Homo sapiens: one gene and its partners. The protein of the gene in region 5 purifies or fractionates together with the protein of the main gene of each other region. This does not show direct contact. Each region holds a gene or a part of one and is shown on either strand. Other genes may lie near its edges.

Evidence for each region.
Region 1: the proteins of STK40 (region 5) and KIAA0232 purify together in Homo sapiens (affinity purification with mass spectrometry, with the first as the bait; one large-scale study listed by BioGRID). This does not show direct contact.
Region 2: the proteins of STK40 (region 5) and PPP6C purify together in Homo sapiens (affinity purification with mass spectrometry, with the first as the bait; one large-scale study listed by BioGRID). This does not show direct contact.
Region 3: the proteins of STK40 (region 5) and CAMSAP3 purify together in Homo sapiens (affinity purification with mass spectrometry, with the first as the bait; one large-scale study listed by BioGRID). This does not show direct contact.
Region 4: the proteins of STK40 (region 5) and MAPK6 purify together in Homo sapiens (affinity purification with mass spectrometry, with the first as the bait; one large-scale study listed by BioGRID). This does not show direct contact.
Region 6: the proteins of STK40 (region 5) and TIMP3 purify together in Homo sapiens (affinity purification with mass spectrometry; one large-scale study listed by BioGRID and IntAct). This does not show direct contact.
Region 7: the proteins of STK40 (region 5) and MTCL1 purify together in Homo sapiens (affinity purification with mass spectrometry, with the first as the bait; one large-scale study listed by BioGRID). This does not show direct contact.

The regions. Positions count from the first base shown.
Region 1 is NC_000004.12:6,855,727-6,859,226, reverse strand, and holds part of KIAA0232 (uncharacterized protein KIAA0232), read right to left. Parts: intron 3,427-3,500; exon of another isoform or gene 3,371-3,426; coding exon of another isoform or gene 3,329-3,370; intron 2,064-3,328; coding exon 1,997-2,063; intron 803-1,996; coding exon 721-802; intron 1-720.
Region 2 is NC_000009.12:125,146,073-125,148,938, forward strand, and holds the end of PPP6C (serine/threonine-protein phosphatase 6 catalytic subunit), read right to left. Parts: 3' UTR 501-2,866; downstream 1-500.
Region 3 is NC_000019.10:7,609,363-7,612,862, reverse strand, and holds part of CAMSAP3 (calmodulin-regulated spectrin-associated protein 3), read right to left. Parts: intron 2,388-3,500; coding exon 2,248-2,387; intron 2,164-2,247; coding exon 2,070-2,163; intron 1,987-2,069; coding exon 1,932-1,986; intron 1,769-1,931; coding exon 1,695-1,768; intron 1,347-1,694; coding exon 1,277-1,346; intron 1,177-1,276; coding exon 1-1,176. UniProt on the Homo sapiens protein: Key microtubule-organizing protein that specifically binds the minus-end of non-centrosomal microtubules and regulates their dynamics and organization.
Region 4 is NC_000015.10:52,043,219-52,046,718, forward strand, and holds part of MAPK6 (mitogen-activated protein kinase 6), read left to right. Parts: intron 1-559; exon of another isoform or gene 560-2,446; intron 2,447-2,611; 5' UTR 2,612-3,242; coding exon 3,243-3,500. UniProt on the Homo sapiens protein: Atypical MAPK protein. Phosphorylates microtubule-associated protein 2 (MAP2) and MAPKAPK5.
Region 5 is NC_000001.11:36,347,925-36,351,424, forward strand, and holds part of STK40 (serine/threonine-protein kinase 40), read right to left. Parts: intron 892-3,500; coding exon 776-891; intron 1-775. UniProt on the Homo sapiens protein: May be a negative regulator of NF-kappa-B and p53-mediated gene transcription.
Region 6 is NC_000022.11:32,860,705-32,863,541, forward strand, and holds the end of TIMP3 (metalloproteinase inhibitor 3 precursor), read left to right. Parts: 3' UTR 1-2,337; downstream 2,338-2,837.
Region 7 is NC_000018.10:8,827,556-8,830,416, forward strand, and holds part of MTCL1 (microtubule cross-linking factor 1), read left to right. Parts: coding exon of another isoform or gene 1-55; intron 56-1,352; coding exon of another isoform or gene 1,353-1,391; exon of another isoform or gene 1,392-1,410; intron 1,411-2,861. UniProt on the Homo sapiens protein: Microtubule-associated factor involved in the late phase of epithelial polarization and microtubule dynamics regulation.

The DNA of each region.
Region 1 (3,500 bases), on a different chromosome or scaffold from region 5:
CAGGTTTGGCAGGTCAAGGATTGCCTATGTTCCCTCTGCAGTAAACAGTGGGAACTCAGTGTTCTTGCTTGTGAACATGGATAATCATTTCTTTTCTTTCTTGTTTTTTTTTTTTTTTTTTTTTTTAATAAGACAGAGTCTCGCTCTGTCGTCCAGGCTGGAGTGCAATGGCACAGTCTCAGCTCACTGCAACCTCTGCCTCCCGGGTTCCAGAAATTCTCCTGCCTCGGTCTCCTGAGTAGCTGGGATTACAGGCATGTACCACCATGCTCAACTAATATTTGAGACTGGGTTTCACCATGTTGACCAGGCTGGTCTCAAACTCCTGACCTCAGGTGATCCACCTGCCTTGGCTTCCCAAAGTGCTGGGATTACTGACATGAGCCACTGTGCCCGGCTGATAATCCTAATTTCTCACAGCTGTCTCAAAGGGCTGTTGTGAATATTAAAGGTAATAGTACATACATAGACTTAGCAAATAATAACCTTCTATGTTTCACTCATTTGTTCCACAAATATTGAATATGAACACCAAGGACAGAACCATCTTGTTTCACCTTTGAATTCTCAGTGTCAAGCATATAAGCGCTCGATAAATGTTTCTTACATTATATATAATGAAACTAAACAAGATGACAAACAGAAAACGGAAACCATGTAGCAGTTATTCATCTGATTTTAACAAATGCACACTTTATTACCGAATACAATCTTACATACATTTCCACTTGATCCTTTGCTGGAGGGGATAATTCTGCCTCTGGAGAGGGAGACCCCTCTAACTTTTTGTGAATCTTCTCTTCTGTTATGAAACAAAAATTAAGAAAGATTTGTCTTATATCTAGTTAATAAATGCTAATGTATTTCAAAGTTTCTCAACTAATTTTAACAAGAAATAGAGACTTTGGTGCTTAAAAGGCAAACTCAATACCGATCTTTTTAATAAAAATCTATTTTTTCAGTGTGCCAGAGGGAATTCTCCGATTAAACCACATTAGCATTAGGCCAAGAGGTGAGAGTTGTTCATCTCGTCACTGATACAGTGCTCTAGAGGCACTTAATTAAGAGACTGAAGTCCCCTGTGTACTTATTAATTAGACCAGAAGGACAGAACATCTGTTTAGATTCCAAAACTATTTTCTCACAAAATTCTACACTCATAGACTTTACATTGACTCATCTTGACCAAAACTAATCTGTAAAGAATATTCTTTATTACAATTTGCTCTATTACTTAACATGTAGGTGAGCAAGGGCTATTTCAACTGAAACAGGAAAAAGGGCTATCCCTTAGTTTAGCCTAGGATACTGCCTTAGGTTACAAATCAACTGTGCCCTTAAGAGGCAGGCTCAAGGCTTGGTGGGCAGCAAAATGACCATAAAGAGGGCAAGGAAACAAGGATCCTCACCCTTAATATGAAGGTCTCGTTCTTAGGGATTGCAAACAAGTTAGAAAAAGTATGAGGAGGATTCATATATCGAAATAACTAAATAAGCTTGCCAAGTCTGTGTTTTCAAAAAAGCTGAGTCAAAACAGAAGTCCCTTCCAAACCTGAAGTAATTCATGTCTTAACATCTTAATTTAATGTCGTAATTTAGCAGTCTTAACATCAACAGGCAGATATTAACAGAGGGGCAAGGATGGGGAAAGGAAAGAGACAATATTGTTCCTGATCTCTGAGCTTCAACTTGAAGCCAACAACAATTAAAAAAACCCAAAAAACAGAAAACCATGAAGTGTTTCCTATCTCTGAGGGCACCTGTGGACTAAGTCCCTCCCTTGGTTGCAGGAATCTCTATGAGTGACTGCTGGGTCTGACACAGAAGCCACTAACAGAGCTGCAGATGGAGCATGAGGCTGGCCTAGTGACACACACTGGACACAAAGACTTTGTTCTGGTTGTTTTCTTTTCTGATCAATTCTAAGATTTTCCCCAATCCAGATTCCTCAGGGATGTAATCCTGGCATGTGTGCGCACAGTGCTTTTGACCTCACCTTGCTTACTCTGAAGGTCTTTCAGTCTGGAGCAGAGCTCCTCCACTAAAGTCTCGATACCAGAGCTCTGCATGACAACAAAAAGACACATTAGGTTACAGCCAGGTATGTACAAATCAGGTATTTGTATACTTTTGTTTTAATACACAGGTTTTACAAATCATCCACATTCCAAAATAAATATCTTACCAATATTTACGTGAATACTACAGTTTAAAAATTATAGGTTTGTAGATACAAATTGGTATACATGCTTATTACTAATAAGGCATATTAAATGAAACTTAGTGATAAAATGTGAACATATTCATGTACCTCCCAGAATAGCTTCTGTTTTTCCAAAGGTGTGTCATCTTGCTCATGGGGCAGATTTAAGGGCCTAAATGTCCATCATACGACCAAAAGTCAGTCACCATCAAAAAGAGTATTAAATATTTATGTGAGCGAGATCTTATACCAGACTTAAAACAAAGGAAAATCACAAAACCTCATCTTAGTTCTCTAGGAGCTCACACCCTGAAGAAAACAAGGTGATTTTTTTTTTTTCTGTTTTAAAGAAACATGAACACTCATGATTAAAACAACAGAAGTCCAGAAAATGAAGCCAATATTGCAAATGTGAAAGCTTTGTCTTCTTTTCAGCATCTGGACCAGATTATCGACTTCTATACAAAGCTTGGGAGTTTAAAATTTAAGGAGAGTACATAGAAGAGTCTGGATTTGGGAGGGTAAAAATAAGAGTCAACCTTTAAAGAAAAATGAATGTAGAAAACAGGCACAAGCAAATAATCTTTCATTAGTAGACTTTAACTTTTAAGAGTCTCAATTTCTCACAGGAAGAAAAAAAAATTTTTTTACAGTGGACAAAAAAAGTCAATGTATTTCTCAGAAACTTTAGATTTATTCAGTGACCAAAGTCCTATTTAAACTGGAATCAAGTCCTTATTGGTGGGCATAACCCAAACAGATGCGCGTGATGGAGAGTTCTGCTAAGCCAGTGCCCTCACTAGGCCTTGACGGGCTAAAAATAGAACTTTACCCCATTCACTTAACTCAAAATGACTCAGCACAAATATTATAGATATCCTACATAAGAAATCCCACGGTTACACAGTTTGAGTAGCAAGAAACAGATTACAATGAAAACAGTTAATTGTAAACATCTAGAGTTACATTCTGTCCACGTCATACCACAGGTTTTAATAGGAAGATAGAAAAATAGGCCAGACAAGAGTTGCCCTTTCCTTTAAAAACACTCTTAAAAACGATGGCAGATATTAGTCATAAACACTGTTCAACCACAAACAGTTGCACCAGAAAGCACCTGCTTACCATAATGCTCAAGGTGTGACAAGGACGGCAATTATATTCCATTTCCTTCGGATCGTGAAACCAACACCAGTGTCAGCTGACACACTGCATACTGTTCTGTACAGCAAGCCTATGTCACTAGGTTTCTAAACCTAGGGCTAGTCTCGCAATGCAGAACACTGAACCTCTAGGG
Region 2 (2,866 bases), on a different chromosome or scaffold from region 5:
TTATATACAAAAGCACAGTGCTGCTGAGCATAGTGGGTGCCTAGGGATTGAGTGGAATATACTTATGTAGTATTTTTGTTGACAACACAAATCTATAAATGTCATGCATTTTTGAATTAAGAAAACATTTGAATGATCTAAGCCAGCATAAGCCTACTCTCATGAGGGCACAAATTCACCAATAAATTGATACGGAAATAGAAAACAGGAGGGGAATGCAGAACCAACCTTCCCCAAGCATCTAGTGTGTCTGGCATCATGCTAGGGGACTTTCCAAATGTTTCTTTTTGGTTTACTACCGTGTATTTCGTCAGCATCACTACACACTGTAAATATACAATTTAAAGAGTTGTGATGATCTCATGAAGCATAGTTCTGGGCACTGGATCGAGGTTGTAACAATAAACATTGCCTTTAAAGAGTTGGAACACTTAGCTCAGAGTCAAATGCAAAACAAAAAAAAAAAGGTTTCACTTTTGTTCACCAGTCAAGCAACCAAGTGGAGGAATAAGCATTTTTTAATTTCTTATATAAAATGCTAACTTCTTGTCAGGACATACTACAGACTATGCATTGAATTTTTTGACAAACTTCCTGTAATCTTTTTATTAATTTACACTGAGGGAATATAGCACCTTTCATCCGAAGAACTGAAGGTGCTTTACAAACATTAGCATTTAAAAAACAATTACATTTAAAAATCTGGATTCTTGATGTCAAATCTCTTCGACTCCAGATACACAATTTCCTGGAAGCTGATGGAAAGTGATTCTATTTCTGACAATGAAAGAGGCTCAGAAAGAGTCCTAATTTGCTTTCACAGTACAGGCATTTTCCAAAACCTGGTTCTGGGCTTACAAAGCACACACACACAAATCTTAATGCAATGAACAATATTTCAAACCTTATTTCCCAAAGCAAAACCTAGGGCTTAAGACGTCAAAATCTTCCAACAGTTCTAGACATCCAGACAGAATAGGAGCTGATGCAGATTGCATATGAGATGTACTGTTGATCCAGGTGTTTTAGGATCACACTCAAATGAATATAAAGTAGTGAAACTTTTTGGGGAAACACATTAACTTATAAAAAGCTAGCCAAGAGCATATCGGCCAAAGGAGGAAAGGGAGTAAATGGCAATTCAAAGTAGACAGTTCTCACTAGAGCCTAGGGCACTTTATTAGAAACCAAGTATATCATAGGCAAATAAAAATAGTTTTTACCCCCATTGATACAACATAAGGGATTTTACATTCAGCCTAGATATAGGGAGTAACAAATCCTCCTGCCCATAAATCTATGACTTGCAAGTATCTTCCACCACATGATAACTCTATATAGTACATATAGTACATAGCCCTTATTTATTGGAGGGATCCAAAATATTCCTTGTAGGCTCACAAAGTCCAATACATTAGCTCTCTCTTCCCTTTACACGTCTAATAGTAAAAACTATTTTTTCCATGCAAAAAGCCATTATTCAGTTGAAGAGAAATCAGGCAAAACAGAGATGGCAGATAAGGAATGGAGAGAATATTATTGGCACGTGCCCAACTAGTGACAAACAAATGCAGTACACAATGACTTAAAAATAAAAGTCACATTATAGGGATAACAAAAACAACTACATCAATCTAAGCTAAGGAGTGTCAAACAGGGAGGGCTGGGAGTTACCGGTTCTATTAGTACAACTTAAGTGGAAAGCAAGCACTTAAATACAATTTATGGTAACAGGAAAAAAAAAAATACTGCAGAGAGCTGTTCAAAGACCACACCAAGTTGTCTGCATCATTAATTTCCAGTGTTTCACAATTAGTAAAATACATAGCTACATATCCCTGTGAGATAAAAATACCTTTCCACCTGAATTACACTGGGATCAGGGCAGTAACACGAAGCTACTGACCCAACATTAGTTCAAGTGTGTGCAGCAAATGTCTTAGCCACCTCTTTCATATAGCTATATAATTAAAAACTATGTAAGGAGCTGGGTGGTTTGAGGGAAAAAAATTAAATCAAAACAGTATTGTGCTCAATTAATAAAAGAAAACCCTGATGAAAAATTATATGCCAAGAAGCTTAGACTATAAAGATTTTTATTGCATTTTTAGGTAACCTGGAAGTTCTTATCCTGAAGGGGAAAAGTGGGTTTTCAAAACTACCTGAACAGATGCTAAAGTGCTTTATTAATTGGCTGGCTTCACAAGTATTTCCTGGAATAACAAAAATTAATCATAGTAAAGGGATACCAACTATTTCACAAAATGTACATTCCAACATCATTTATGACTACAGTCATAAGAGATACTGGAATACTTGTCCTTATTAAGTGGACAGTTGCATATTCAGAACTGATCATCACAACCCTTTGGATATTCAAATTACTTACACAAAGCTGAAATATGGTATCACAGACCTTTGCAAAAAAGAAGAACTTGTTTCTTTTTCTACACTTTAAATAATCTGCTTCAGATTACAGTTCACAAATACAAGAGTCCTAACTTTTCAACCTTTCCAGTTGCAGTTTAAAAATGAACACTTTCTAAAAGTTAAGGTCAAGTGTTACAGCAAGAGAAGAATGATTCCTATTGAAAAGCACATAGATTTTAGTTAATAATACTCATGATAGATTGTAAACTGGATTGATCACATTCTACTCAACTGGTATCAAATTAACACATCAGCATTACAAGTATTAAATGTTTTTCTATTACTATAGAGGATATAAACCAAAACATTAATATGGCAGTTATGTTCTTTAGGCACAGTTTAGTGATTTTTTTCAAAAATAAATACTATTGAATTTCAATTGAAGTTTTAAACTCAATAACCAAAGGGTCAAGAACTCTGATTAGGAAAAAAGAAA
Region 3 (3,500 bases), on a different chromosome or scaffold from region 5:
CGCAGCTCCGCTGGCCGCGTGTGTTTCGGGCTGCGGGGTGACTGGCTGGGCCCGGGCCCAGGGCTGCGCCGGGTGGCCGGGACTCGCCGGGCGGGGCTGGGGGATGCAGCTTTGGGCCCCGTCGTGGGGCCAGGGATGACCCACGCAGCAGGTGGTGGGGCGGATCCGGGGGCCTCGGGCGGGGCCAGGAGCCGCTGCTGCTGGTCCGTGAGCCTCTGCATGTCCCGCTGCAGCGAGCTCAAGGCGGCACTCAGCTTGCTGACCGCTCGATTGTATTCCCCCAGCCCCTCGTGGGGCACCGGGCCCAGGTCTGGCGAGAAGGTCACTGCCTTGGGCCGTGAGGTTGGCTCACCCTGGCCCTCGCCTGCGGGCCGCTCCCCACCAGGGACTGGACCGGAATCGGCCTCCTCCGCCTCTGCTTCCGCCTCCCCAGAGGCTTCCCGCGGCTGCACCTGCAGGAAGGCGCTTTTGCCCAGCCGCTGGCGGTGCTTGGCGAATATGGCCTCAATCCGTCGCTTCTGAGCCTCGATGGCTCTGCGTTTCTCCTCCAGCCGGGCGCTGAGCTCACTCATCTCCGAGCTCAGGGCCTCCGGCGGGGCCGGAGTGGACGTGGGGGACCCCGCTCCGGCCTCAGCCTCTGCCTTCACCAGCTGTTTCTTGCGTTCTGCAAAGCTGGTCATTTTCACCTCGGAGTTGGTGGCTGCTGGGGACGAAGCCACCGCCTTCGGGGACCCCTCGGATGGGGCTGGCGGTTTCGATGCCTCCCCCACCAGACAGGGAGATGGTTTCGAGGGGGTCTCGGGGTGTGGCATGTACACTGGTGCTTTGGTGGGCCTGTCGGACAGTGGTTTGGAGGTCCCCTCGGGCAGGTAGGGGGAGGCCAGGGATGGCTTGGAGGGCCCCTCAGGGGAGTGGAGGTAGAAGCTGCCGTCGGCCGCCCCATCTGGGAGGAGCCGGGGCTCGGCACTGTGGATGATCTGCAGAGCTTCCTCGATGGTGGGCAGGTCACCAGGCTCCGGGGGTGGCTGGGTGGGGGTCCTGGCCGGCGCGGGACGCGGGGGGCCCAGGCTGTCCGAGCTCACAGAGCGGAGGAGCACAGGGTCTCCCATGACGACATCCACGTCGCTGTCCAGGCCAAAGGGGGTGCTGAATGACACAGCCTGGGAGAGGGGACGGCTGGGCGGCCGGAGGGAGGGGTCAGCCCCTGGGACCAGCCTCGGCCCCAACCCGCCCTAGCCTGCTCCACCCCCTACCCTGGCCTGTGAGGTCTACTCACCTGAGCTGCCGGTTCCAGGCCTTGCCCAGGGCCTCCATATGGGACATGGACGGGGAAGACTTCAGGGAGCCTGGGGGAGGCGATGAGTGGTCACTATGGGGACCCTGGGAACCCTGAGTGGGGTCAGCCAGCATCTGGGGACAACCTCTGCAAGGTCATTGGGTGAGTCACTGATGGCTCATTATGTGGTCTAGTGAGACCAGAGGTTTCCAGAAACAGATACCCGGGGCCATTTACTGTCACTACGGGGTACTGTGGGGCCACTGGGGAGGCCATTCTGGGGGTCACTTTGGGATGCCCAAGGGGGATCTGATGGAGAGGCTATTGGAAGGCTCACGAGGAGACAACATGAGGCCCACTGGGGCAGTCTGTGAGTGGGGGGGTCCCCCGTGACAGAAGCCACCTACCCCCTCCTCACCTGTGGATCCTCGGAGTGGGGACTGGGGGCCACCAGATGACAGAAGCGGGTGGCGGAAGGTGAAGACAGGAGAACTGTACGGAGAGACGTACTTCAGCCTCAGGACCCCCACCTCCTCCTCCGCCTCTCCCCGGGGGGAGACAACAGCATCACCCAGCTGCGTCCCAGTGCTCAGCAAGGCAGACATGGAGCCCCACACCCACAATGCCAGAGACTCGCCCAGTGTGGGGAGCGTACCTACTGCCGCTGTTGTTCTGAGGTGGGGAGGCCTCAGTGCCCCGGGGGGAGGCAGCTGCAGTACAGAGAAGAGGGTCAGGCGGGGGTTTGGCTCTCCCACCCGCCCCCGACCCGGCCCCCAGGCCCCCAGGGCCTCACCGTGACCATCGGGCAAGTCCTTCACTTGCACAAAGTCGGGCTTGAGCACCTCAAAACACATGAACAACTCGGCCAGCATCACCACCAAGTTGACCTGGAGGTGGGAGGCCGGGTCAGCAGACGGGACCCCTGGCCCCAGATGCCCGCCTCGGCCCAGGAGGCCCCAGGATGGCCTTACCTTGAGTGGCGGTGGGACGTACAGCAAGTCCTCAAGGGACAGGGGGCAGCCACGAGGAAGGCGAGAGGCACAGAAATCCTGCACGAGCTGGAGGTTGTACAGGCTGTCCGCCACAGACATGGGGTCCTTCAAGCACACCTCTGTGGGGACAGGAGGAGTGGGTCCCCAACTCTATGAGGAGGAGGATGGGGCCCCAGGGAAGCCAGGGACCAGCAGTCCCCCACACACGGAAGACCTCCTATGAGCCCAGCTTCTGCCAGGTGCCCTTCGAGAGGTGAATTCTTTTTTTTTTTTTTTTGAGATGGAGTCTCGCTCTGTCACCCAGGCTGTAGTGCAGTGGCGCAATCCCAGCTCACTGCAACCTCTGCCTCCCGGGTTCAAGTGATTCTCCCACCTCAGCCTCCTGAGTAGCTGGGATTACAGGAGTGTGCCACAACACCAGGCTAATTTTTTGTGGTTTTAGTAGAGATGGGGTTTCACCGTGTTAGCCAGGATGGTCTCGATCTCCTGACTTCATGATCCGGCCGCCTCAGCCACCCAAAGTGCTGGGATTACAGGCGTGAGCCACTGTACCCGGCCGAGGTGAATTATATGATAGACCGTCCTTAGGCCGGGGGTCCTTAACCCCCGGGGCGTGGCCTGTCAGGAACTGAACCGTACAGCAGGTGAGCTGCAGTGAGTGTATTTACAGCCGCTCCCCGTCACTTGCAGGACCACCCGAACCCCGCTTCCGTCAGATCAGCGGCGGCATTCGATTCTTACAGGAGCGCGAACCCTATTGTGAACCTGGCGTGTGAGGGATCTAGGTTGCACCCTCCTTATGAAAATCGAATGCCTGATGATCTGTCACTGTCTCTCATCACCCCCAGCTGGGACCGTCTAGTTGCAGGAACAAGCTCAGGGCTCCCACTGGTTCCCCATGATGATGAGTTGTAGAATTATTTCATTCTATGTTACAACGTATTAGATATAAAGTACATAATAAAGATTAACGTGCTTGAATTATCCCAAGACCACCTCCCTGCCTCCATCTGTGGAAAAATTGTCTTCCACAAAACCGGTCCCTGGAGCCAAAAAGTTGGTGACTATTGCCTTAGGCCTTTGCATCTTTCTAGAACACTCTCCCCCAAGACCTCAGCTCAAAAAGCTTTTCCGGGCCAGGTGTGGTGGCTCACACCTGTAATCTTAGCACTTGGGGAGGCTGAGGTGGGAGGATGTTTGAGCCCAGGGATTCAAGACCAGCTTGGGCAACA
Region 4 (3,500 bases), on a different chromosome or scaffold from region 5:
GGGAGGGAGACATGCAGTATTAAAGCCCTTTTTAAAAATCTGAAACTTTTTTACCAATACAAAAATTATTTTTATTTTTTATTTATTCATTTTTTTTGAGACGGAATCTTGCTCTTTTGCCCAGGCTGGAGTGCAGTGGCGTGATCTCACCTCACTGCAACCTCCACCTCCCAGGTCCAAGCGATTCTCTTGCCTCAGCCTCCCGAGTAGCTGGGATTACAGGCACCTATCACCACGCTGGGCTGATTTTTGTATTTTTAGTAGAGACGGGGTTTCTCCATGTTGGTAGGCTGATCTCGAACTCACGACCTGAGGAGATCCACCTGCCTTGGCCTCCCAAAGTGCTGGGATTACAGGCGTGAGCCACCGCGCCTGGCCACAAAAATTTATTTTTATTACTTATTTCCACTATCACATGAGCTAGATCATATAACAACATTGAAAATCCACTGGCTAAAGACCAAAGACAGACTAATGGCTCAGCTAGATAATAGCAAATGATATGTTGGACTTAAGTTGTTTGATTTTTTTTTTTTTTTTTTTTTTTTTTTTTTTTTTGAGGCAGAGTCTCGCTGTGTCCCCCAGGCTGGAGTGCAATGGCAGGATCTCGGCTCACTGCAACCTCTACCTCCCTGCAACCTCTACCTACCTGGTTCAAGCGATTATCCAGCCTTACCCTCCTGAGTAGCTGGGACTACAGGCATGCGCCACCACGCCTGGCTACTTTTTGTATTTTTAGTAGAGACGGGGTTTCACCATATTGGCCAGGCTGGTCTTGAACTCCTGACTTCGTGATCTGCCTGCCTCGGCTTCCCAAAGTGTTGGGATTACAGGCGTGAGCCACCGTGTCCGGCCTTGAGATATTTTTTTAATTCAAAAGTTTATTCACAAACTTCAACTTTTAAGTGTTTTATTACAGATAGACTGGTAAGCTACAGAATTTTTAGGACTTTTTTTTTGGGGGGGCGGGCTAGGAGGGCTGATTTCTGAGAAGCAGAGAAAAACTTGTAGACAGGAGAAGCCGTTTCTGTTACAGTAAAATAAAGCTATTATACTATTAGTATCCTTCATGATATTAAGCAGATACAAGACCCGTTCTTATTTATTAAAAGAACTGAGGGATATAGTAAGTATCAGTTTTTATTAAAGCTGTCTTTCTCCTATTGGACAATGAGTTGCGTTTACTGAGGGCCAGAATCCTTTTGCTCATATCAGGTTTGCTCCTGCCTAGCATATAGTAGTTGCTCAATATATGTTTATATATTAAACGAATAAATTGGTGGCTTTATTCTTTCTGCCTAAAATATTGTCTGGTCTTATTTGTTAGGAATTCTGACCACCTGATTTTCCATAATGCCTCATATCTGGTATTCTGGGTACTCTGCAATTAGGCCATTAAGAAACTGAAAGAACCAAGTTGCATTTTTTTTTTTCCAGGCTGGCTAGGGAACCATCTACTGGAGTTGAGGCTATTTTTTCCTGCCCTTTTATAGGATATTTTTTAAAGTATGAAATATTTTAAGTGTACAGAGATCAATATAATGAACCTTCATATACATACCACCCAGCTCTATAAGATTCTAGTAATCTGCCATGTTTGTTATTTTAAAATAAATAACACATTAAAACGCAGATAAATGATTCTGGTCTCTTTCCTTAATCTCCGGGTAATCATTATGAATTTGGTATTTGTCTCATTTTTTTTTCCTTTTTTTTTTTTTTTTAGTTTTGCAATATACATATGTACTTACCAAAAAAAACTATTTTGCATGCATATAACTACTTATCTGTTCTCCTATTTTATGAAGTTGAGGTTGTTTCTAATTTTCTTTACCAAAAAAAAATGAGCATTTCTCTAGGGAGTTTACTGTGAAGAAAAATGGCCGGGTCATAGAGTACGCTATTTATTTATTCATTTATATGTTTATGCCAAATTGCTCTGAAGTTTTTACTAATTTAAACTCCAACCACTATTGTGTGAAAGTTTGTTTTTCTACACTCCTCAGACTTGACATTAACAGAGATGCATGTTTTTTCAATCTGAAATGTTCTCTTAAGGTAATCTTTTCCTATCAGTCACATTAAATACCTTTTCATAGGTATTATTCATTGTTCAAGTTTACTCTTATAAGTTGAAGAACATTATTTGCATATTTGTGCTGTTAGATTTTTGTTCATTGGATATTGATAGGCATAGTTAATAAGTAAACATGCTTTTTAACAAACTAACACATTGCAGGCTTCTTCTATATTCTTTTAGATATTTAGATAGATGTTACTAACGTTTTACCCCTCACAAAACTCAAGTTCTATAAAAATATTATGAACCTTCCCATACTTGTTGGCATTTCAGAAATGGTACAACCTAATGAGCCTGTTACCAAGAATCTAGTGTAGTGAAATCTGGAGCCCGGGCCAACGTGTGTGAATTGCTGATAACATTTTTGTAAGCTATTTTTGATTAAGGGTAATTTGTCACTTAATGACCATAATTAAGTTTAATGTACCAGTAGTAGTTTATTGCTAAATGCCTACTTTGTGTCATACTACAAATTTGAAGAAAAGAGTATTTCCTGCAATGGTGACTCTCTTCTTTTTCTCATCCCCCCAGGTTGTATCAGAGTAAGATGGACGGTAGCTTTGATTGTGATTGTGGTGAGCTGGAGCCACCTGATCACTAACAAAAGACATCTTCTGTTAACCAACAGCCGCCAGGGCTTCCTGTTGAAATAAATATATAGCAACAAAGGAAAAAAAGAAGCAAAACGGAAATAGTGCTTACCAGCACCTTAGAATGATGCTGCTCAGGACCAGTCCAACACTGAATGTATCTGCACTGTGAGGAGAATGTTCATAGAAGCCTGTTGTGTGCATATTTATTCACATTTTTGTTAAATGTTAAATCGTTTAGCACGGTAATCTGAGTGCACAGTATGTCATTTCATTCCGTTTGAGTTTCTTGTTTTCGTTAAATGTCTGCAGAGTTGCTGCCCCTTTCTTGAACTATGAGTACTGCAATCTTTTTAATTCTCAATATGAATAGAGCTTTTTGAGCTTTAAATCTAAGGGGAACTCGACAGGCCTGTTTGGCATATGCAATGAACATCAAGAAACCATCTTGCTGTGGAAGCATAATTATTTTTCTTCTCCCTTTTTGAAAGATCTTTCCTTTTGATGCCAGTTTTCTTCCTTGTTTACACAAGTTCAATTTGAAAGGAAAAGGCAATAGTAAGGGTTTCAAAATGGCAGAGAAATTTGAAAGTCTCATGAACATTCATGGTTTTGATCTGGGTTCTAGGTATATGGACTTAAAACCATTGGGTTGTGGAGGCAATGGCTTGGTTTTTTCTGCTGTAGACAATGACTGTGACAAAAGAGTAGCCATCAAGAAAATTGTCCTTACTGATCCCCAGAGTGTCAAACATGCTCTACGTGAAATCAAAATTATTAGAAGACTTGACCATGATAACATTGTGAAAGTGTTTGAGATTCTTGGTCCC
Region 5 (3,500 bases):
GGCATGAGCCACTGCACCCGGCCTGTGAGTTACTTATTTGTTTCGTGTATTATCTGTCTCATCCCCACTAGAAAGTCAGCTCCATGAAGGCAGCAATGTTTGTCTACTTTGTTCCCTGTTGTCTCCAAAGTGTCTAGAACAGAGCTTTGGGCCTGGGTGGCCCTCAGCAAACAGTAACAGAATGAATGAACACAGACAAGGAGAGAGGGCTCTGAAACACAAACTCACAGCAGCACACTCAGTTAAGAACTGTTCAATGGCTTCCACTCGCACTTGAAGTAAAGGATGACATCTCTTACTGAGGCCTATGTCAGGCCTTGCCTGATCTGGCCCCTGCGCACCTCTCTGGCTTCCCCTTGAACCAGGCTCACTTTCTGAGCAGCCTGCAATTGCTCCAACGTGCTGTGCTGCCTCTGGGACCCTCAGCCTCAGCCTAGTCACACATACCCAGGGAATTCCTAGTTTCCCTTAAGATCATAGCTCAACTGTCACACCTTGTGGGGAAAGTCCTCCAAGCACCCTTCATCCACTCTCACAGCAATCCCGTTCCTCCCTAGCACTAACCTCAGAGGAATTAAACATGCATTCATGTTATCATTACGTCTTCCACCTCCAACAGACCAAACATTTTGTATGGGGAGGGACAGTACTGGTCTGGGCCCCCAGTGAAGCCCCAGCACCTTGCCCAGGGCCTGCCCACAAATTTGCTGAGTGGACTGTCACAGAGCCTGGCTGTATTGAGCTTAGAGGCCCAATGTCTGGCACACACACGTACCGCTGAGCACGTCGGGACTGATGTAGGCAGGGCTCCCTCTCTGGTCCTTCAGCAGGTCCCCCTCGCTCACCAGATGCTTCCCGAGGCAGAAGTTGGTGATGGTTATCCGATGTGTCCTAGGAGTGGGAGACAGAGTGAACAAACCTCAGTGTCTATAGCAACAGGCACAAGACACGCAGGCAGGACACACCTCACTGGGCCAACACCCAATCCTGAACAGTAGGAGGTAGGCTTCTCGTCAGAGGGTGAAGCAGCTGCCCCGACCCCCTCTCCAGGGAGCAGAGCAGAGGAATCAGGCCCCAGACTTTTCTGGCCACCAGCCGAGCTGTCCCAGCAGGGATCGGCTTCTCTCCCAGGTATCTGAGTGTTGCACAGGCCATCCCTGGACCTGCTGCCCGGGCTGAATCTCGGGGTACAGCTTAGGGCTTAGAACAACTTTCAGAGATTTCTCAAAAACAGCCTCACGTAATATTCTAGACTGGGAGTGACCTGAGATTTAGTTCAATTTCCTCATTCACACATGAGGAAAAGGAAGTCCAGCAGAGGTGAGTGACTCCACCTTGGAAGGTGACCCAAGGGCTGGCCCCGAGCCACCTCCGAACCACGGAATATGTCAGTTCTCACTTGGCCCCACAACCACTGCAGAGGAAGAAACTGACAGTGGCCAATGAGGGGGATTTTCTCACGGTCCTGTTTCAGATGATACAACAAAGGCACAGGGAAGTGAAAGGACTTGGCCAAGGTCATGCAGCTGGTGAGCAGAAGAGCAGGATCCAAGACCAGGTCTGCAGGGCCCCAGAGCTGCACACACAACTGACAGCTGCCTCATGCCCAGATGTGTCCCTGGGCAGGGCCCCAGGCCCCGAATGACTTTTCCTTCTGTTCCATCAAAGCTGACTCATCCCTTACCTCGTACTTGTGACTCTGCCCTGGCTAGAACATCACAGACCCTCCCTCTGAAAGGCGTGGGGCAGGGCAGCTTTGGGCTCTGATCCTTTGGAGAAAACTCACATGTGGACAAAAGGAAGTGCCCCGAGAGGACCCTTACACCTTACACCACACTGGGGGCTGGGAGGGTGGGCAGGCCCTGTCTAAGAGGCCTGGGAAAGGTTTCCTGGCCCACTGGGGCAGGCAGTGAGGAAGGATGCCTCTCTACCCAACTGCCCTGCTCCTGTGTCGGCTGGCTGGGTGGAGAAGCTAGGGGGAGAAGCTGGGAGGACAACAGGAAGGAGAGCTCCATGGGGGCCTTGGGCTGCCTCTCCCTACAATCAGCTCTCAGAGGCAGAGGGCATGTGTGGCTGCTGGCGGATTTCCCCGGGAGCCGCATCCAGGCGGCTCTGAGAGCCCTCGGTGATCTCGGGGAATTCTGCTGGCAAAGGGCTCGATGCAAAACAAAGGCCAGCCCGTCCTCTGGATTCCCCACGGAAACGCCAACTCCAGCGCCTATACAGGTCCGCCCTGTCAGCTGCCATAGGAGTCTGACTGGTGGCCCGCAGGCGGCTAGAGCCTGATCGCACAGGTGAAGGGTCACTGCAAAGGGTCACTTGCACGTCAAGGAGTGGGCTGCTCTAGCTCTGAAGCTCCAGTGCCGCTGCCCTGAATATGGGGCTGCTCGGGCCTCTTGTCCAGAAGGTTCCCACAGAGCAGAGGCACTGTGGGTTTTCTCCCCTGGTCAGAGATGGCCGCGGAAGCTGCAAATGCATCCTGTGGGTCTCTGAGGCTCAAGACGCTGAGAGGAGGACAGCTCAGGAGAAAGTACGGTGGGTTTGGGAGCCAGGTTCCTAGTCCTGGCTCTGCCACTTCCTTGCTCTGTGAATCTCTTGCTAAACCTCAATTTCCTCATGCGTACAACAGTGAAATCCCAGCACCAAACTCCAGAACTGGGTTAGGATTCAGCAAGATAAGATAATCTCATGGAGGGCACTTAGCCCAATGCCTGGCAAATAGTAGAAGCTGGTGTCCTCTCATCTCCGATGGTTGGCACACCTGGTAGGAAAAGACTCTGTCTTGGAGGCGGTAGGGGAGAGGTGCCATGGTGTGACAACAGGCCCCGGAGAGCACATGCCAGTGTGGCTGAGCTTTCAACTCAACACTGCTGGTGGGACTTTCCCACCCTCTGCCAGGGCACGGGCAGGCACAGCTGAGGCTCTGCAGGGCTGAGCGGCAGGCGCACTGGAGTCTCTCCACAGGAAGTGGCACGGGCAGCTCCAAGTCCTCCTGAGGTTTGGCAACACTCCCCTGCCCTGCCACCACCACCCAAGTGGGGGGTGCATGGCTCCCCGGGAGTCCCAGACCCCCTAGTCTGGTCCTGACAGGAGGGGGCAATGGCAGAGTGGGACGGAGGGAGGGGACGTGTGTCAGTAGGATCGGCTCTGAGTGAGTCACGCTTTAGCTATGGCCCTCTGGGCTGCCACAGTGTTTTTCTCCTTTTCTAGGAACTTGGTATGTTGCTTGCCTACCAAAAAGAAAGGAGGAAGGAAAAAGACCCCACAGCACCTCACATAACCCCAGAAGAGGATTTCGAATTTCGATCCTTTTAAAATCCAAAGCGGGGTGAACTTGTTGTTGCAGCTGCCTTGCCAACACCTCCCCCTGTCTGCTCCTTGAGAGCTCTCTGCTCTGCTGAGAAGGCCTCCAGCTGGTCCGCCTACTGCTCCAGTGGAGTTATAGCCTGGCATGATGGGTGGGAAGGGGCTGGAGTGGGCTGGAGCTCCTTCAGGTCAAC
Region 6 (2,837 bases), on a different chromosome or scaffold from region 5:
GGGCCTGGGCACAGGAGGGAGAGCTGCAGAGTGTCCTGCCTGCCTTGGCTGGAGGGACACCTCTCCTGGGTGTGGAGACAGCTTGGTTCCCTTTCCCTAGCTCCCTGGTGGGTGAATGCCACCTCCTGAGATCCTCACCTCTTGGAATTAAAATTGTTGGTCACTGGGGAAAGCCTGAGTTTGCAACCAGTTGTAGGGTTTCTGTTGTGTTTTTTTTTTTTTTTTTGAAATAAAACTATAATATAAATTCTCCTATTAAATAAAATTATTTTAAGTTTTAGTGTCAAAAGTGAGATGCTGAGAGTAGGTGATAATGTATATTTTACAGAGTGGGGGTTGGCAGGATGGTGACATTGAACATGATTGCTCTCTGTCTCTTTTTTCAGCTTATGGGTATTTATCTTCTATTAGTATTTGTATCTTCAGTTCATTCCACTTTAGGAAACAGAGCTGCCAATTGAAACAGAAGAAGAAAAAAAAAAAAAGCAGCAGACAACACACTGTAGAGTCTTGCACACACACAAGTGCCCAGGCAAGGTGCTTGGCAGAACCGCAGAGTGGGAAGAGAGTACCGGCATCGGGTTTCCTTGGGATCAATTTCATTACCGTGTACCTTTCCCATTGTGGTCATGCCATTTGGCAGGGGGAGAATGGGAGGCTTGGCCTTCTTTGTGAGGCAGTGTGAGCAGAAGCTGATGCCAGCATGTCACTGGTTTTGAAGGGATGAGCCCAGACTTGATGTTTTGGGATTGTCCTTATTTTAACCTCAAGGTCTCGCATGGTGGGGCCCCTGACCAACCTACACAAGTTCCCTCCCACAAGTGGACATCAGTGTCTTCTCTGTGAGGCATCTGGCCATTCGCACTCCCTGGTGTGGTCAGCCTCTCTCACACAAGGAGGAACTTGGGTGAAGGCTGAGTGTGAGGCACCTGAAGTTTCCCTGCGGAGTCGATAAATTAGCAGAACCACATCCCCATCTGTTAGGCCTTGGTGAGGAGGCCCTGGGCAAAGAAGGGTCTTTCGCAAAGCGATGTCAGAGGGCGGTTTTGAGCTTTCTATAAGCTATAGCTTTGTTTATTTCACCCGTTCACTTACTGTATAATTTAAAATCATTTATGTAGCTGAGACACTTCTGTATTTCAATCATATCATGAACATTTTATTTTGCTAAATCTTGTGTCATGTGTAGGCTGTAATATGTGTACATTGTGTTTAAGAGAAAAATGAAACCCACATGCCGCCATTTTCCTGAATCAAATTCTGCAGTGGAATGGAGAGGAAAATACTTCTAGGCAAGCAGCTAGACTGGTGAATTGGGGGAAATAGAAGGAACTAGTAACTGAGACTCCTCCAGCCTCCTCCCTATTGGAATCCCAATGGCTCCTGGAGTAGGAAAAAAGTTTAAACTACATTCATGTTCTTGTTCTGTGTCACTCGGCCCTGGGTAGTCTACCATTTACTTCACCCCAAGTCCTGCTGCCCATCCAGTTGGGAAGCCATGATTTTCCTAAGAATCCAGGGCCATGGGAGATACAATTCCAAGTTCTCGCTTCCTCCTTTGGGCATCTCTTCTGCCTCCCAATCAAGGAAGCTCCATGCTCAGGCTCTCAGCTCTCGGGCCAGTGCTCTGCTCTGTCCAGGGTAGGTAATACTGGGAGACTCCTGTCTTTTACCCTCCCCTCGTTCCAGACCTGCCTCATGGTGGCAACATGGTTCTTGAACAATTAAAGAAACAAATGACTTTTTGGAATAGCCCTGTCTAGGGCAAACTGTGGCCCCCAGGAGACACTACCCTTCCATGCCCCAGACCTCTGTCTTGCATGTGACAATTGACAATCTGGACTACCCCAAGATGGCACCCAAGTGTTTGGCTTCTGGCTACCTAAGGTTAACATGTCACTAGAGTATTTTTATGAGAGACAAACATTATAAAAATCTGATGGCAAAAGCAAAACAAAATGGAAAGTAGGGGAGGTGGATGTGACAACAACTTCCAAATTGGCTCTTTGGAGGCGAGAGGAAGGGGAGAACTTGGAGAATAGTTTTTGCTTTGGGGGTAGAGGCTTCTTAGATTCTCCCAGCATCCGCCTTTCCCTTTAGCCAGTCTGCTGTCCTGAAACCCAGAAGTGATGGAGAGAAACCAACAAGAGATCTCGAACCCTGTCTAGAAGGAATGTATTTGTTGCTAAATTTCGTAGCACTGTTTACAGTTTTCCTCCATGTTATTTATGAATTTTATATTCCGTGAATGTATATTGTCTTGTAATGTTGCATAATGTTCACTTTTTATAGTGTGTCCTTTATTCTAAACAGTAAAGTGGTTTTATTTCTATCACACATCTGCTGTCTCTTGCCTTGTTGTGTTCTGACGCCACGGGGAGTTATGTATACACCAGCAGGCCTTGAAAGTCTATCCCCAGCTCCAGGCCTGGACACATCCCTCCCTCCATGCACCGCTATGGCCTGGCCCCACCCTGCTCCAGTCCTTTTCCCTTGCAGAAGGAATCTTAGGAGAGGTGCCCTGCCTTGACTTTGCTCCCTGATTCTATTGCTAGAGTCCTCCCTAGTTCTGCTGAATCTGGATGTATTAATATATCTGTACCTAATCACCTATTGGTGGTACAAGTACCCCCAGACTGGAGTCCTTACTCAGCCCTCCTTGTTTTCTTCCTAAGAATCCCAACCTGGTGGAGGTGGGGAGGGGCGGCCTGCAAACAGCAGTCCTTGATGTCAACTGCCTGCTTGAAATTCCAAGTATGGCTTGGCCTAGTTGGGAACACCAGGAACTCATGAGGTCTCACGACAGCTGGTGACCTTTTCCCAGAGCTTATAACAAC
Region 7 (2,861 bases), on a different chromosome or scaffold from region 5:
TGACAAATGGTGTCTTCTTTGGGCTACTGTTACCCCATCCTTCTGGGGTCCTCAGGTAAGTCCTCCTGCCGTGGAACGGTCTGTTTATATGTGAGTGCCCTGCCTTCTTAGGGCTCTGAATCTCAGTTGAAATTGGGGCTATGTCACAAAGCATTAACCGGCTGTGTCTGTATTGTCTGTTTATATTACACACCAAATAGAAATTATTCTTTAAGAACCAAAAAAATGCTTTGAATTACGAATAGTGAATCCTGCAAGCAAAAATAGGTTCTTGATGGAATCCCAGCATTATGGCATGAAAACGGTTTTATCAGTACAAAGTGGCGCCCAACCCCTTTTGTCCTCCGTAAAGTATTCATTTAGATTTTCTCTTCACTTGGTGTGTTTGCCACCAAAAGAGATGATGTGAAGGGAGCACAGTTGCAGGGCCTCAGAGCGGGCATGGAGCACTCATCGGCAGCATCTAAATGCCACGGGCTCTTTTTTCCATTTCTGTTGGAATTTTCCTCGTTCTAGATTCCAGTGGGATTGTTCTGAATTGATGTAATATATTCAGGCCATTGCAACCCCTTCCCATTGCTCCATGAATTATGCAGTAGTTCTCGGTATGCGTTCCCAAATCCCCAGGACTACTTCTGATTCCAAGCCCACCCAGTGCGCTGTTGCGGAATCTTTCCCCGAATGTTCACTCAGGCATCCACACCCAGGAGTGATGCAGGTGACAAGAAATCTCCCTTTCTCACTGCACTGTCATCCCATAAGCCACTCGGGCCTCTTTTTCTCTTGACACCATGGCACTAGTTCAGCAGTGCAGAGAGAAGCCGTGAGGAGTTCCGGTGTGAAGAGAAAGAATCTGAAAATGGAATGCTCTTCCTCCCTCCCCTAAGTGGAAAATGTGAGGGGAACTTTTTAGAGTAAGTGGCAGTAGCTTGGCTGTTGTGACCGAAACAAACGCAGCCGTATAATAGTCTCTGTTTTAGATACCAGTCATGCAATTTCCATATCTCTGTTTGCCAAAGTGCTGTTTGAAATGTTAAATGCTAAAGGGTGACTCGGAAGCATAGAAACTAGAGGGAGGTCTGTGACTCCTCCATGGAGTTTCCTTCTTCTCTCTGGGCAGATGGCAGAGGGCAGGCCTGTGTGCCTAGTGCCTGGCCACTTCCCCACACCTGCCTTGGAGTGAATGTGCTAGATCTGAGAGCCCGCAAGTCTCTCCTGGTGGCTACCCCTGAGCGAGAGGGATGGTCCTCTACCTCCGGGCTTGCTGACTTTAAACCTTTATTGTTCTCCTGTTTAAAAAACACTTTCCAACCTTCTTGCTTTTCTTTTCTTTCTCTGTCTGTTCTGTCCAGAACCAAACTGTCTTGCTAACTGCCCCCTGGGGACTCTAGCCCTGCCCGCCTCACGCTGTAAGTGCTTCCTTCCTTGTTTCCCAACTGTCTGGAGAGGTCGTGTTGTGTAACTCGCAGTTGGCACCTGACGCTCATCACCTGAGGGAGTTCTGCCCGGTGGCGGTACCCTCGCTCACCCCAAGTTCCAGGAGGTTCGCCTAAACCCAGGAACAGATTGATAAGGCCAGAGACTCATCTGCTCTGCTAGAGGGTTGACCACTCAATGCAAAGAAGGGTTTTTAGGTTATAGAGATTCTGCTGAGATTTCTCCGCTTTTGTACATTTGCAGCCAATATGCTTTCAGAGAATTGAGTAGATACTGGCCAGGAGGGGACATCCTAGGCACAGGGGTCTTGCCTGAGGGGGTCTTTGGGCCCAGCCACCCAGGACTGGTCAACATTTTGGTTATACGTGCACTGGCATGTGCTGAAATGAGGTGTGACCCTAATGTGATAAGGCTTTTGTTTTTCATTTTTCAACAACCATACCACAAGGAATGAACCCAAATATATCTTGTCCTTCCAAGTGAGCACCGTGGGTGACAGAGTAAATGCTCAATAAATATTTGTTGAATGAATAAACAACAAAATCATCCCCACTCCAAATATCTTGAGACCTTCCCTCAGAATTGCTTTCAGAGTCTGAGTCAAAGCACATGAGAAAAGATATACTTTTTGATCAAGGATATAGTCATCCACCCACCTCATCCACTGGCCTTGACTCGAAGCCAGTAGTATCTGTTGTCAAATACAACAGATGTATCCCCATGAAAAGATGACAGGGAACACAGGGAGGGTCAATTCCCAGAAACGTGCTACAGGGGCAGCATCCCAGGACACCATGCCATGCAGCGACCACAGTGGCTTCTCGGGAAAGCGCAGCATCGTTTGCTTGTACATGCCGGTGTGTTACTAAGGAAAAGGTTGATTCCCTTGAATGCAGACTCACAGTGATTCTTCCTTCACAAGCAGAGGCTGGCAAAGAGGGGGTACTGAATGGTCTCATAAAAAGCCTGCTCTTCAGCACCAGCCAGGCGGAACGGGATACGGTGGTGTCAGATAAACCTATGACAGCAGCTTCACCAACACACAACACACACAGAACAGATACACAATACACAACACACACACTACTTCTATAACAAGGGGAGCGCAGACACAAAACACACAGATTTCCCAAACCGTGTGTCCCAGTCAAGCACTGTGGGCTGCAGTGAGATGAGGACACAGGAGCACCTTGGGTTAGTCTGCATCTTGGTGGCTGGTGGCGCTGGTGGAGTTTTAACTGGAGAGGTATTTCTGGTTGTCACGGTACTGTTAGCATAATGCTTTGGGAACAGAAGCTTCTCCCTGTGGCCGTATGAAGTTCCAGCCACAAAAGCAGCAGGGAGCATGAAGCATAGTCTCCAGGGCCACTGTTCCTTTTCTGCTGACCCCAGAGGGAGGCAGGGAAACCGCTCGCCCCATTGCT